Linked DNA regions of Homo sapiens: region 2 is linked to region 1. A link means that fine-mapping ties the variant in region 1 to the expression of a gene that starts in the linked region. Tissue or cell type: minor salivary gland. Region 1 holds a variant in brackets; the other region holds the start of a gene. All regions are shown on one strand. Distances are from middle to middle.

The links. PIP is the estimated chance that this variant, and not a neighbour inherited with it, causes the effect.
Region 2: it holds the start of TACR1-AS1, and the variant in region 1 is fine-mapped to the expression of TACR1-AS1 in minor salivary gland (GTEx, PIP above 0.99).

The regions. Positions count from the first base shown.
Region 1 is chr2:74,285,821-74,293,820 of GRCh38, reverse strand. SLC4A5 (solute carrier family 4 member 5) reads left to right here. Exons shown (of 31, transcript NM_133478.3): 8 at 7,919-8,000. Among named protein-coding and RNA genes, the nearest start is that of SLC4A5, 54 kb to the left of the region's middle. RefSeq lists enhancers at 3,239-3,298, 3,043-3,543, 3,544-4,044 and a silencer at 6,912-7,046. The variant C/A (reference allele first, on the strand shown) is at 4,801.
Region 2 is chr2:75,150,352-75,158,492 of GRCh38, reverse strand. TACR1-AS1 (TACR1 antisense RNA 1) reads right to left here and starts at 4,175. Exons shown (of 4, transcript NR_168010.1): 1 at 3,922-4,175; 2 at 2,178-2,289. All of the region lies in intron 1 of TACR1 (tachykinin receptor 1), which reads left to right.

The sequences.
Region 1 (8,000 bases):
AAAGGGGACTCATGATTAAGAAGGTAATTTTATCACAATGCCAGAAACCTATTTGAACTGGCTTGGGGAAGCAGAGAGAGAAGGGGTGTGGGGAGAGATTGTTTATATTACAAGAACAAAGGAGTTTCTCACAGTCCCAAAGCAAAACGAAGAGCCGGGCTCAAGTGGGTGAGCGCAGTGCCTTCTCAGCCCCCTCTCTGGGTGTACACAGCCCTTTCCCACAGCTTCGCCTCTAGGCTGCTTCCTCTCTTTGCAGCCCAGCCCTTTCTGCCTCTTCCATTTACCAGCTCTGTCTCCCAGAAACCATCAGGAAAGGCCCAGCTAACTCAGAGACCCAATTCAAAATTCACAGGCTTGGGACAGGTGTCCAATGAACCATTCCTGCTCCAATTCATTGTGGCCAGGAGCACAGGTCACATGTCACACAAATACAGCTGCCCAGGGTCATCCTTATGGGAGGAGGGGACATGGGCTGGGCAGACATTCCAAAGCCACCCACCCCAGGAAGGATTCCCGTGAACACAGCAAGTCAGCAGATTCTCTCCTCTTCCTCTCTCAGAGGGCACACTTGGAGTTTGTATACAGCCTTCTAGAAAAAGAATGTTATTGCCCATGAAACTAGGACTCAGGGCCTCCAAGACCTACTTCACACAGTTGGCAAGAATGGTTTTGGCTCCTTTGGGTTCCCTCTCCCAGTCCCCAATAGTCAGTGGCCTGGAGTCACCCGAATCCCCCCATCCCTGCCCCCTCTGCTTCACCCTCAGCTCCATTTCCTTGTTCTTGGCTCCTCTCTTGCTGAGGCCAGCCTCAGCAAATATACTCCCGAGTGTCAGGCAGTCAAATCCATTCACCCAGCAAATATGCATTGAGTACACATGCTGTGTGAACCCATGTCAGGGGCCAGCAGTGCGATGTGAACAAGATAGGCCCTGACCTCACAAAGCTGACCGTGTAGCCACCCATCAGGGAGCCGATGAGAGAGAGAATGTCTGAAAGGACTTGCCCAGAGCTGAGGACCCCAGGATCGTGTCCTGATGTTGACTTCCAGATGGCCATAATGGCTCCCAGATCTTTACTAAGAGTTGAAGTCCACACTGCTTGCTAGTTTGCAGGCCACTAGATCATTTTGTGCTAAGTCAGTCCCCACCCAGTAAAAGCATGATTCTTTGTGTGGCTTTAGTGTGCCTCCTGAAGCGGTCCCCATGGAGGTTATGTTTCTCCCAGCAACTGCTGTTAGAATCCATTCCTATAGTTGGGCTGGCACTTTGTGACTCTTGCTGTTAGCTATAGAACAGAGGGGCTATTACCTGTGGCATTTCTCATTATGTGGATTAACTTCTGACGTGCTGCACACATGTGGGATCCGCAGGGCATTAGAGAAACCCTGACCCAGTGGCCCAGCATGTGGTGAGCTAAACCTTCTGTGGGCAGAAGGGAGGGGCAGAGACAGCGTAGGGGCCTGGGATGGAGGGCCAGAGGTAGCATGGGAGGAGCATGGAGTCTAGAAGCTGAGAAGGATTGGGCCCTTGGAATGTTTAGAGGGAACAGGCTGGTAACTGGTAGTAACAGAGGAAGCATCTCACCTGCTGGCATCAACAATAATAGCAATATCACCTATTGAGTGACTGGTGTACACGAGTGCTGTGCCAGCCAGTCACATTACATGTATTATCTCATTGAATCCCTGCCACAGTCCAGTGAGGGGGGCGTGATTATTACCGCTTCATAGATGAGGAAACTAAGGCTCAGTGGGAGCTTGATGTCTTGCCAGGATCCTACTGCTAGTAATAGCAGAGTCTGGAGTTGAGCCCAGGTCTGGGCTCTTAAAACACCACATGAATAAAGAGGGTCTTTTTGGGATCCTTGGCCATCTTTTTTTGGGTATTGAGGCCACCCACAGGGCCTGACTTGGTGTGGCCTGCTGTGGCCACTCAGAAGGAGCTGGGTCAACCTCAGCCACAGTGCAGTGGAAGCTGCAGAGCCTGGGACCCTCAGGCAGGGCCTGGTGTCCTCTGCTTCTGTTTTCTCAGCTTTAAAACGGGCATACTTGTGGCCACGTGTGATGGCTCACACCTGTAATCCCAACACTATGGGAGGCTGAGGCGGAAGGATTGTCTGAGCACAGGAGTTCAAAACCAGCCTTGCAAAACATAGCAAGACCCTGTCTCTAAAAATAAAATAATAAAATGGGCGTACTTGATCCTCGAGCCTCAGGTATGAAAATGTCACCAGTGGAGCCAGCCTCAATGGGGCAGTGTAGGGGGAGAATGTCAGATGTCTGTTCTCCCCCAGGCTCTGCTAACCTGTGTTGGGGCCTAGGGGGCCTATGGGGTAAACTGGGTCTTGGTTTTCTCATCCGTGAAATGAAGGGTTTGGACTTGACCATCACTAAGCTCCCTCCCAGCTCTAAGACTTAGTGAATTCAGGGTTTGTAACTCCCTGGAGCAGCCACCACTCAGTGACCTCCAATCAACCTTGGCACATTCTAAGTACTCAGTAAGCACTTGTTAAACCAAACCCAGGAGATTAGGAGTTTCTCAGAAGAGCAAAATAATTCCCCAGTGGAGTTTACCTCACACTCTGAAGTGACGAGCTTCCACTGTCCGTGGGCTCTCAGAAAACACCTGCCGAGTGGTGACACTTGGCACTTTGCCTGAGAGGTGGAGGAACAGGAAGTGTATCAGGAGTTTGGGTTTAAAGTTGGGGAGGAAAGAAACCAGCTACATAGCACATTATCGAGCACTGCTTGGTCAGTGTGAGACCCCACAGCAAACACTCCCCTCCAGCAACCCCACTCCACCTTTGGGGCTGTGTGGTGGAGAGGAAGGGCCCTGCTAGGTTCCTCTCCAGCCAGCTCACCTGCCACCAAGGCTCCTAAGGAGGCCCTGGGGAATCTCACAGCACATCCTACCCCTGCCTTTATAAAGGGGCCTGCAGAGAGGATCCTGGGCTCTCCTAGAGACCACAGGCACATAGGAAGCACTCATGGGGAAGGGGGTAAAGGGGCAGTTTTGCCAGTCCTCTCACAGGTCCTCAGCTGCCACCACCCCTGCTGCTGTGGAGACCCGGCTTCCTGCTTGAGGTTCTGCTGCAGCCACTGAGCCTTTCTCTCTCTAGTGCACCTGAGATTTCTCTCTCACCCTCTCACTTCTCTCTCTCTCTTGCTCACTTCTCTCTCTCTCTCTCTCTCTCTCTCTCACTTCTCTGTCTCTCTCTCTGTCTCTCTCTCTCTCAGATCTTTAATTAACTCAGTGTAGCTTTTCTCTCTCAAACACTTTTGCATAATCTTTCTCACACTTACACTTACCACACCTATATTCTCTCTACATATAGCCTCTCTCTCCACCTCCCCAGTCCTTCACACATTCCTTTTCTCTCTCTCTTTTTCTCCCCTCAAACCCCCCTTCTTCTCTCCCCACACCTCCCCTGGTGCTTAACTGGAAACAAAAGTGAGTTTGTTGTGTGAAGAAGAGGACCTGTGGAAGTAGCAGCCAGGGAGGCAGCAGCGGAAGCAGGCTGGGGCCAGAGGCAGCATCGACAGCCAGGGACCCCAGCGCTCAGCTGTTCCAGGGAGCAGGTAATGCCCCAGGCAGAACTGGTTTGCATCCTGCTCTCTGCCTGTCTCCTCTCTCCAGGACCTGTCCATTTATTTGCCTTCTTGTCTGGCCTTGAAGGGGAAAGGGGATTCCAGACTTAGGGAATGGCAGGCACAGGGGCCCAAGGAGTAGCATGCCCTCCTCTTCAGGGATGTGGTCTGCTGTGGCTGGGGTCGGGGTGGCTGGGTGAGGGACATGCTAGAACCTAGAAAGGCAGGTTAGGGCTATATTATGAGGGGTGGTTTGAGCCATGTCACTGACCCCTAGGCTTTAGGCAATAGAGAGACATTGAAAGTTTTTCAACTGGTGAATAACATAATCAAATCTACATTTTATTTTATTTTATATTTTATTTTCTTTTTCATGCCATCCTCCAAGGTACATCAAATCTACATTTTAAAAGAGTAGTTACTGATTTCTGATCCCAGGGAGAATTGGTATGGCCCCTCAGAATCAAGCAGTCACAGTTTTCTCAATTTTAAGAAAAAATAAGGTTATTTTCTCAATTGTTGGTTTTTTGTCTATAAAATTTCTTTAAACATTTGGTGTCTGCTAGCAAGCGCCAGCAATCAATAAGACAATGGAAAGGATGTAAGTTAAAAGTAATAGGCTGGGTCCAGTGGCTCATACCTTTAATCCTGGCACTTTAGGAGGCTGAAGCAGGTGGATTTCTTGAGCTCAGGAGTTCGAGACCAGCCTGGGCAACATGGTGAAACCTCGTCTCTACAGAAAATACAAAAATTAGCCAGGCATGGTGACATGAGCTAGTACTCCCAGCTGCTCTGGAGGCTGAAGTGGGAGGATCACTTGAACCCAGGTGGTGGAGGTTGCAGTGAGCCAAGATTGTGCCACTGCACTCCAGCCTAAGCAAAAGAGTGAGACTCTGTCTCAAAAAAAAAAAGTAATAGAAAAATTGAGAAATTTAAAATTCATTTAAATACATGAGTCCATGAGTTCTGTAGATAATAGTGTGTTCTGCTAGTAAAATGATTTCTAACTCATATGTATAGTGTTTTATGGTGCTATTCAAAGAGAACCATGACTCCCAGGAGCCCATTGTGTGAACATGTTTGAAATGTTTTAAAAGCACACTCTACTGCTACATAGGGAATGGGATTAAATGGGACAACCAGAGGCAATGGCAACAGTAGGTGGCTATTGCAGTGATAGGAGCAGATGATGAGAGCCAGAACCAAGATGGTGG[C/A]AATGGGTGGGGAAAAAAGGAGAGAGCCAAAAAATGTTTATGAAGCAAATGAAAGACATTAGTGTCCAGTTGGACATGAATTGTGAAAAAGAAGGAGCTTCAGGAATGAGTCCAGCATTGTCTAGATGGGTAGGTGGCTAGAGGTGCTATTAATAAAAACAGAGGAGAGCAGGGCTGGGTTGATGGGAGAAGGGATGCAGAGCTGTTTTGAATATGTTGAGGTTGACTTGAGAAGGCTGCCGAGCTTCCAAAAGGAGCAGTCCAATTGTCAGTTGGAATGTTCAATACACATGGGTGTATTGCCTGGACACAAGGGTGACCTCATTTATAAAATGACACCACAAATAACGTGAGCTAGCCCAGAAGGAGTGTGGAGAGAGAAGAGAGAACAAGATGAAGCAGAATCCTGGGCAAGATCAAGATTTAAGTGTTAGCCAGGCAAGAGGAACTAGGGAAAGATATTGAGAGAGAATCTTCAAAGAGGGAAAATATCAAGAAACTGCCACGTTATAAGAGCCATAAGTCACATTTCAGTTCAGAGCGGCGATGATCACCTCTGAAGTTCCAGAGAGATAAGCCAGACCATAGCTTCTCAGTGCTGTTGGTTTGATTGATTTTATTAGCTTATTGGTTTGACAATTAAAATAACAAGAGGGATCTGAGGGCAGGGGTTGTGAATTTGGGTGCATGGCAATAAGTGAGATTAACGGGACACCAGTAAGAAGTAGTGGGGACTGTGGCAAACTAAAAAGCATATGTTTACCTAAGAAGGCACCATCATCAACTCTCATGGATTGTTGCCAAGCAGGAACGTGGGCACAGTGATCAGAACATCTGACTTTTCAAGAAAAGTCAGAGATCTGGATTTCTATATGAAATCTTACAATTCTTTATCTTAGCAATACTTTCAAAAAATTTCATACTCTGCGAGGCCTGAATTAAACACACCTTTGAACTGTCAGTTTGAAACCTCTGCCTTTGTCAATGTCCTTAGCGTGGTGGGGGCTGAGCCAGTGGCAGCAGGCCGGGAACTGATTGGGCAAGGAGGAGATGGAGACCATGAGCACAGACCACTACTTTAGGAAGTATGGGTAAAAGAAAGAAGAAGGCAAGCAGGAGAGCTAAGGAGACAGGCAGGGTCAGGGAACCTGTCTTGGGTAGGAAGAGCTGTTTCTAGGCTGAGAGAAAGAGGGTGGAGAGAGGGAAGTTGAAGATCCAGGTGAAGAAAGACTAGCTGATGAAATAAGGATCTGAAAGAGTTGAGGGGATGGAAGAAAGGATGTTGATGGATTTCATGCCTGGAGGCCTTTATTCTCTTGGTGAAGTGGGGTAGGAGTTGAATCAAGAAGCTTGAAGAGAGGAGCAAAGGTTAGGGACAGCCTTGAGGGACACAGTGAGGGCGCTGACAAGGATGCATGGAAGGATGCCGCACTTGAGACTTGCTGAGGGGAAACCCTTACAGTGGGGCTCATGGGCCTGGATGTGGGTGTTGGTGGTGAGGGGCTAAGCAGCTGTTACCTTCCAAGCCCTGTGTCAGGCATTTCATTCTCTTACCTGTTGTATTCCTCCCAGCAGTCCTGCTCACTCAACTGAGTTCGCTTGTGAATAAGTGGCAGCCCCGAGACTCACACCCTTGTCTAGCTGGATTGGGATTCTATTTGATTCCACCACACTACCACTCCGTGCTGCCATCCCCACCCCAGCCATCCCCCAGCCCAAGCCCTCAGACACACCTGCAGAGGAGACTGGGCCAGTGAATTCTTGTTTGGGCATTGCCTGGCTGGTTTGATTGGGAAGTCAAGGGGAAAGAATGGAGGATGTGATGAAGAAAAGAGTAGAGGTCCATGAAGAAATAAGTGAGGACAGAAGGGAATGATGAACTGAGGAAACAGGCTGGAGGAAGGGAAGACCTGATGAGGCCCAGGAGACAGTGAACGAGAGATTGCGTCGGGGCAGGGCAGTGGGGTTCCTGAAAATTTCAATATGAGTGTGAAGATGAGGGGAAGGGAGGTGAGGTAATGATGACTCCAGGGTGTCTAGCCTGTGCAGTGGGGTGGGCAGGGATGCCTTTAGTCATGGCATTGGTCACCACTTTGACATCATGCCATCTCTCTGTCCCTTGCTCACGTGCTGAACCACACTCACCAGCACGTTTCCACCACAGGGTGTCTGGAACATGCAGAGCACTCTTCCTCCAGATCTGCAGAGTGGCTCGTTCTCATTTTTCAAGTCACAGCTCCAGTGTCCCCTCCTCAGAGAGTCCTTTTGTGACCATGCTATCTACTGTAGCTCCCCTGGTCATTTTGTTTATTTTAGACAACTTATGATTGAAATGGTCATTTATGGATTTGTTGACTTGTTTATTCTCTGTCTCTATCACTAGAGGACATGCTCAAGAGAGCAAGGACACATAGGTCTTCTTCATAGCTTTATTTGGCACATAGTAGGTATTCACTGGAGAGAGAGAGAGATGAAGAAAAGTAAGGAAGGAAGGAAAAGAAAGAAAAAGAGAGAAAGAACACAGGTGAAGTGTGTTTGGGAGAGGAATGTCGAGTTTTGAGGTGCCTGGGAGACACCCAGGAAGTGACTTCCAATGGGCAGCTGGAAAGCAGGCTGGGGCCTCAGGAAATGGACTGCCATCTTGCCCAGGAAGAAAGTGGGCCCACATGGTACAAGGGTGTGCAAGCTGTCCTTTTGCATGGCTGACTGCCTTTTCAAGACCAGTGTTGGAGGATGGCTTGCTTGGGGCCCGGTGGGAAGAAGAACCCCCTCGGGTGGTAAGCTGAAGTTGGGTCAGAGTGCTTCTCACTTCTCTCTTCAGTTCTGGTTCTTGCTACTGCCCTGGCTTCGACCATTTCCCATCATTCTTCACTGCCAGCTGCAAGACCCTGGATCTGAATGCAGACTAAATCTTTTCATCTCTTTTATCTTAAAGAGTATCTCGCCCACCTCTGATTCATGGTTACAGGAGGCCAGCATCACCCAGGAGCTGGACTTAGTTTTACAGAATTAGAAAATACTTTTCCCTTGTGCTTGCCTCCTACTCCATTTCTGTTGGCCTTGTGGTCCTCCTGCCTTCCATGGGACACTCAGCAGACCTGCTGCCCCTCTTTTGCAGGGTCCCCAGCTGCTGAGCAGCTCCAGGACATCCTGGGGGAGGAAGATGAGGCTCCCAACCCCACCCTCTTTACAGAGATGGA
Region 2 (8,141 bases), 860 kb before region 1:
TCCCCCAGGACCATTTTAATTTTTGCTGTTTATCAAAATAAATACATATTTTTTGATATTTTAGAAAATAGATGTCCTATTGCTGCCTTTTATAATAATCCCTCTTATTAAGCCAGACACTGGGAATACATAATATGCATTTTCTGCCTGGGAAAAAGGCAGAGAGCAAGGGAAAGTTAATAAGCTGTGGAAATCTCTCCATGTCCACTTGGTCAAATTAAAATTCTACTGATTACATAGTTGCCTAGAGTAATGCTTTTCCGATAAATGCTCGATCTTCGTCCATAGGAAGATCTCAGGAGACATTTACCCGAAGTGAATCAGATCCAAAGATAGTAAAAAGTGTTGGAGGACCCAGTTGGGTCATAGTTGGAGTCTTGTATTCTCTTTGCCCTTAACCATCTCTATGATCTTTGATGCATTCTTCACACAGCTAGGTTTCCATTTCTCAGTCTTAAAATAAGGTTTAGACCTAACCTATGAGGTAATAATGAGAATTTCCCAAACTCATGTGTGCATATGCAAGTTTCTTGAGAAACAGGCTCTAAACTAAAGCTCTTTTTGGTGGGGACTTGGACTCAGATTCTCTTACTTCCCTGTCTCTAGGTAGAAACACTGCAAATTGTTTTGCTGCTGTAAATTCTCTTTCAATAATCAGAAGATTTTCTTTCAGTCTATTTCCCACATCTTCCTGATAATGGCCAGTAGGCAGAACTGAAAGAACAGAATGAAATATTTGAATTGCTTAAAACCCACATCTCCCTGAATAAGATTAATACATGTATCAGGTTTTATTTCTTCTTCTTTTTTATAGAGGAACAGTTCCATCTAGTGTAAGGACAGGGCACTCCTCTTCCTGACTTCAACCCTTAGGTGGGGGATGTTCCCAGTGAGTATTTGTCACAGTCCTGGCCCCAGGCTATTTCAGGGCTGCCTGGCCACTTACCTGCCCCTTCTTTGACACATTGTTTGTGAACAGGTGGAGGAACAAGGTGGGTACAATCCCCCTTCTTAACTCTTAACAATGCAAGCTCTGATTTTCCTATGTCAAATCCTGTCTTCGTAGGTCGTTATGATGCTTGTTTGTCAGGACCTGAGTCCTCTCTTTTGGGAGAGTAGGAAAGAGAAGCTTGAGTACCTACCCAAAGTCACTGGGTAAGCCTTGCTTCCATAGGTGGGTGAGGAGGACTACAGTGGGCAGATGGTAGTAAGGAAAATGAAAGGAAAGGGAATTTGTTTAGACTTGGAGGAGAAGGGTCTAGCTTTCCTCCAAGTCTCAGTTACCAGTTTGCTCCACGGTGGTGCCTTTCCTTCTTCATCCTCCTCCTTATCAATCCCCCAACCCCTGCCCTGCCACTACCACAGACCTGAATACAAGCTGATGAGATAATCCCTTCTAGCCTCTGTTTCTGAAAACCATTGATCCAGGTCAGCAGCTGGAATGCATGGGAGACATGAGTCCTTTGGAGAAATGGATGGAGCACCCAGCCCCGACTCCCATCTCCATCATGGGAGGAGAAGAGCTGTCAGCTTCATAGTGCTGAGCATTCTTTCTCATTCTCTTAGTCATTTTAATGGAAATGCAGTGTATCCCTACATTTCACTATCTCTTTACTTCATTTAGAAGAAAACTAGACACTAATGAGCATACCCAAATCCAATGTAGAAAGACAGATTGAAACAGGGGTTGGTAAACTTTGTATGAAAGACCAGTATATTCATTTCCTAGGGCTGCTATAACAAATTACCACAAACTGGGTGGCTTGAAACAAAAGAAAATTATTTTCTCACTGTTATGTAGACCAGAAGTCCAAAATCGAGGTGTTGGAAGGGCTGTGCTGCCTCCAGACACTCTTGGGTAGAATTCTTTCTTTTTTTTTTTTTTTTTTTGAGACGGAGTCTCGCTCTGTTACCCAGGCTGGAGGGCAGTGGCATGATCTCCACTCACTGCAAGCTCTGCCTCCCAGGTTCACACCATTCTCCTGCCTCAGCCTCCTGAGTAGCTGGGACCACAGGGGCCTGCCACCATGCCCGGCTAATTTTTTTTTTTTTTTTTTTGTATTTTTGGTAAGGATGGTCTCGGTCTCCTGACCTTGTGATCCGCCCGCCCTGGCCTCCCAAAGTGCTGGGATTACAGGCATGAGCCACCGCGCCCGGCCTCTTGGGTAAATTCTTACCTGCCATTTCCAGCTTCTGGTGGTTCCAGAGGTTCCTTGGCTTGTGGCTGCATAATTCCAGTCTCCACTTGTTGTGACATGGCCTTGTCCTCTGTATGTCTCTTCTCCTCTTCTATCGCTTACAAGAATACTTGTTATCATATCGAGGACCCACCACAATAATTTGTATGCACAATATGATATTTGTCACACTATTCAACTCTGTGTTATAGCACAAAAGCAGCCATAGACAATATGTAAACAAATAGTGTGACTGTGTTCCAGGATATCTTAACTTATGGACACTGAAATTTGAATTTCATAGAATTTTTACTTGTGAAATAGTCTTCTTTTTATTTTTTTCAATCATTTAAAAATGTAAAAATTGTTCTTCACTCAGAAGCCATATAAAAAAATAGGCAGCAGGCCAGCTTTGGCCTATGGGCCATAATTTACCAATCCTGAGTTAGAATAATAGAATATATCCTAAACCATCTTGATTCCTTTTTGATGGTCTCCAATAACCTTCTAATAACTCCAGCTATCTGTTCTGTCTACATTATTCTAAGTGTTTCTATGTCTCTTGACATACATTTGACCACTCTCCTTTTTAAAACTCTCTCTCTTGTTATGTGGATATGATAAAATGTAAATGTAGCTTCACAAGAAATATAATAATGGAGGGTAATTGGTGATTTTCCAAGGCAGGAGGGTGGTTGTCCTGACCTTGTTTGTCTGTATCTGAGCTATGTGACCCTTAGAACAGGAGATGGTGGCCTCTCTGGATGGAATAGAGATTTTACAGGTGAGCTGGACCAGAAGAGCTGGTGATACTCAGGTGGGGGTTGAATGGGGCAGTTGTGAGGCACTTGTGGACATTAGAGAGGTAGAGATAGAGAGAGGAGAGAAAGGGGGAAGAAGGGCATGTAAGCAAAGGGAGGGGGAGACAGGAAAAAGAGGAGAGGAGAAGAGAGGCAGAAAGATGAGCCAAGGTTGCTCACGGCAAGAGAGGAAATTAAATCCAGATGATGCTAAGTGAGCTTGAGGCTCATTAAGCCATACCAGGCAAGAAGACAGTTAGAATTGTCCTTGAGCTGAAGAGGAGAACTACGTTAGGAGCTGCAATCCCAAGAATGGAGAGAGGGTCCTGGAAGGCTTGAGGATGGGGCAAAGATGCTGGGGCTTGGGAACAGTCCCTCAACGTTTTGGGGTTTTTAGATTTTTTTGTTTGTTTTTTAAATGGAGGTCAAAGTGTAACAGCCTTCCAAAATAAACTAAGTTGTCCTTATGCAGCCCTTTCATTTGGTTTGAAAAGGTGAGGTCAGAGATGTTCATGCTCAGTGTGAATTTGGAGACGCAAAGGAGAGAGGCAGAGCACAGACTCATCTGGAGGAGAAAGGCAGCTTCCTGCCTCACTGCCCAGGACTGAGGTAGGGAGCAGGCCAAATGCGAACTTGGAAGCCAGTGGCAGAGGATGGGCCGAAAGGAGGGATAAGGGAGTACCAGGAGCTAAGCAGTGCTGTGGAGAAGGTCTTTTAGGGGACTCTTCCAACAGCAGCAGGGATGCAGGGTAGATAGACAGGGAGAGACCTGGGGCCAGAAAACCCAGAGAAGACAAGACAGTTAGGAGACTCCAGCCACAGTCCAGGCAACATGCACGAGGGCCTAACTTACAGTGGGGATGAAAGGGAATGATAGCTGGGAAACCCTCTTCAGAGGGAATCACCATGGCTCATTGGCTGACAGGTTGTAATTTCTCACTCACCTGTGCTGGGTTAGTGCTGAATCTCCACTGGGTTTCTTCAGAGAGTGTGTGTGTGTGTGTGTGTGTGTGTGTGTGTGTGTGTGGTGGGTTAGTGCTGAATCTCCACTGGGTTTCTTCAGAGTGTGTGTGTGTGTGTGTGTGTGTGTGTGTGTGTGTGTGTGCGTGCGCGCTCTTGGCTGATTATCTCCCTGGGCCAAACTTCCAATTATAAATCTCCCGGAGTGAGTGGCTTCAGCAAAGCAGTCCTTCCTTGTGACATGCTCAGTCTGGAGGTTCTGACTACTCCCCCATGAGCTCTGTAGGGGAGCTGTTTGTTGTTTGGGATTTTCAGAAACAGGATTTTCCTGCTTGGGCAGCAACAGCATGACCCTGAGTGTTCAGATCCCGAGGGAGCCAGGAGCCGGGAGGAAGGCAGCAGCAGGCTCAGCTTCCTGTAGGCCAAGCATTGCTTTGGGCAGTGAGGGGGGCATCCAAGTGAACTTTAGTTGTGCACAGCAAGCCCCACACCCCCGCCCTTCAATTAATCAGTGAGCCAGCAAGCTGGGCCTTTACTGAACTCCTATAGTGAGGCCAGTTTCCTTATCAAAAGTGAATGGCCTCATGGAGAGACCTCAGTCCCACACCCTGAATAAAGCTCAATAGTGCTGCCCACCATCAGTGATTCCAGGAAAAAAAATTTAATGAATCTGATTAGAATACTTAGAGTACACTGATGACCTGGAATTAGCTTGAATAGGAAGAGAGGATACGTGAGGAATTAAATCCTTGCACACAGGAGTTAAAACCACCTCCTCCCTTTTGCATCCCTGGTTGGTCCACCTGGATCCTCTGTCTTCACAACTTAAAAGGGTTAGCAGCCACATGGAAGGAAACAGGGAATGTGCCAGGTGAATTTCAGAAGTTTTGCCATTGCTTCTCTCCAAGTTGTACACAATTTCAATAATACTCTAAGAATTAAGAGATGTATTTTAATGGGTTTTTTTCCTGATCCTATAAACAAATCTTAGGTCATCAGATCTGGAAGAGACATCAGACCTTATGCTCTGCTTCCCTTGTAAAACTGAACGCCTTTAACAGCACAGCTCAGAGTGCAGTCAGTCAATATTGACATTTCACAAGAGAGGTCAATAATTCTCAGCAAGTGAGTAGCTGGTTCTAGCTCAGTCACCCACTTAGGTGTCAGGACTATCTTCTGAGAAGCAGTCTTTCATAACATCCCACTGAGGCTTGGATGCCTTCAGAAAAGATTTCTGACAATTCCTGTGCTTTCTTGCCATAGCATCTTGTTAGACTCAGTCAAGGTGATTGTGTATTGTTCCTACCCTGCCCTCTGCTGAGCTTTTGCCTAAAAGAACTCTTATAAGAAGTCTTAGGCTGGTGCAGTGGCTCACGCCTGTAATCCCAGCAATTTGGGAGGCCAAGGTGGGCAGATCACAAAGTCAGGAGTTCAAGACTAGCCTGGCCAATATAGTGAAACCCCATCTCTACTAAAAAATACAAAAATTAGCCAGGCGTGGTGGTGCACGCCTGTAGTCCCACTACTCGGGAAACTGAAACAGGAGAATCACTGGAACCCAGGAGGCAGAGGTTGCAGTGAGCCGAGATTGCGCTACTGCACTCCAGCCTGGTGACAGAATGAGACTCCGTCTCACAAAATACCAAACAAACAAACAAAAAAGAAGTCTTGGCCCCATCTTTCTTTGGAATTAATAGCCTTTGATCCACCCACTAGAAATGGTAGAGTGAGGTGTACAGTCTATTCTCCTAAGGAACAACCCCTTAGCAGTGAATTTCTCTAATGGGAATGCATTGGGGTGACTAAGAGAGCTGTGATCTATACACCTGTTTAGTGATATTTATCAATCATTTATTAAGCATTAATTGAGCATCTACTATGTACCAACTGTTAAGCTTCCTGTTTTCAGATTTAGAAGGAATCAGACATCTGACACTTTAACTCTCAGCCTCGGAGCATGTATTAGTCCATTTTCACACTTCTGATAAAGACATAACTGAGACTGGGAAGAAAAAGAAGTTTAATTGGACTTACAGCTCCACATGGCTAGGAGACCTCAGGATCATGGGGGGAGGTGAAAGACACTTCTTACTTGGCAGCGGCAAAAGAAAATGAGGAAGAAGCAAAAGCAGAAACCCCTGATAAAACCATCAGATCTCATGAGACTTATTCACTATCATGAGAACAGCATGGGAAACACTGGCCCCCATGATTCAATTACCTCCCCCTGGGTTCCTCCCACAACACGTGGGAATTATGGGAGATACAAATCAAATTGAGGTTTGGGTAGGGAAACAGCCAAACCATATCATTCAGCCCCTGGGCCCTACAGATCTCATGTTCTCACATTTCAAAACCAATCATGCATTTCCAACAGTCCCCCAAAGTCTTAACTCATTTCATCATTAACCCATTAACCCACAGTCCGAAGTCTCATCTGAGGCAAGACAAGTCCCTTCCACCTATGATCCTGTAAAATCAAAAGCAAGCTAGTTACTGCCTAGACACAATGGGGGTACAGATATTGGGTAAATACAGCCATTCCAAACGGGAGAAATTGGCCAAAACAATACAGGGCTCATGCAAGTCTGAAATCCAATGGGCAGTCAAATTTTAAAGTTCCAGAATGATCTCCTTTGACTCCAGGTCTCACATCGAGGTCACAGTGATGCAAGAGGTAGGTTCCCATGGTCTTGGGCAGCTCCATGCCTGTGGCTTTGCAGGGTACAGCCTCCCTCCCAGCTACTTTCACAGGCTGGTGTTGAGTGTCTACAGCCTTTTCCAGGTACATGGTGCAAGCTGTTGGTGCATCTGCTATTCTGGGGTCTGGAGGATGGTGGCCCTCTTCTCACAGCTCCACTAGGCAGTGTCCCAGTAGGAACTCTGTGTGGGGGCTCCAACCCCACATTTCCCTTCCACACTGCCCTAGCAGAGTTTCTCCATGAGGGCCCCACCCCTGCAGCAAACTTTTGACTGGGCATCCAGGTACTTCCATACGTCTTCCTAAATCTAGGCAAAGGTTCCCAAATCTCAATTCTTGACTTCTGTGCACCTGCAGGCTCAACACCATGTGGAAGCTGCCAAGGCTTGGGGCTTGCATCCTCTGAAGTCACAGCCCAAGCTGTACATTGGCCCCTTTCAGCCACAGCTGGAGTGGCTGGGACACAGGGCACCAAGTCCCTAGGCTACACACAGCACAGGGACCCTGGGCCAGATCCACAAAAACACTTTTTCCTTCTGGGCCTCTGGGCCTGTGATCGGAGGGGCTGCCATGAAGGTCTCTGACATGACCTGGAGACATTTTCCCCATGGTCTTGGGGATTAACATTAGGCTCCCTGCTACTTATGCAAACTTCTGCAGCCAGCTTGAATTTCTCCCCAGAAAATGAGTTTTTCTTTTCTATCGCATAGTCAGACTACAAATTTTCCAAACTTTTATGCTCTGCTTCCCTTATAAAACTGAATGCCTTTAACAGCATCCAAGTCACCTCTTGATTACTTTGCTGCTTAGAAATTTCTTCTGCCAGATACCCTAAATCAGCTCTTTCAAGTTCAAAGTTCCACAAATCTCTAGGGCAGGGGCAAAATGCCACCAATCTCTTTGCTAAAACATAACAAGAGTCACCTTTGCTCCAGTTCCCAACAAGTTCCTCATCTCCATCTGAGACCACCTTAGCCTGGATTTTATTGTCCATATTGCTATCAACATTTTGGGCAAAACCATTCAACAAGTCTCTAGGAAGTTCCAAACTTTCCCACATTTTTCTGTCTTCTTCTGAGCCCTCCCAAACTATTCCAATCTCTACCTGTTACCCAGTTCCAAAGTCGCTTCCACATTTTCAGGTATCTTTTCAGCAATGCCCCACTCTACTGGTACCAGTTTATTGTATTTGTTTGTTTTCACACTGCTTATAAAAAACATACCCAAGACTGGGAAGAAAAAGAAGTTTAATTGGACTTACAGTTCTACATGGCTGGGGAGGCCTCACAATCATGGCAGGAGATTCACTGGTACCACTTCATATATGGTGGCAGCAAAAGAAAATGAGGAAGAAGCAAAAGCAGAAACCCCTGATAAACTCATCAGATCTCATGAGACTCATTCACTATCACAAGAAAAGCATGGGAAAGACAGGCCCCTATGATTCAATTACCTCCCCCTGGGTCCCTCCCAACATATGGAAATTATGGGAGATACAATTCA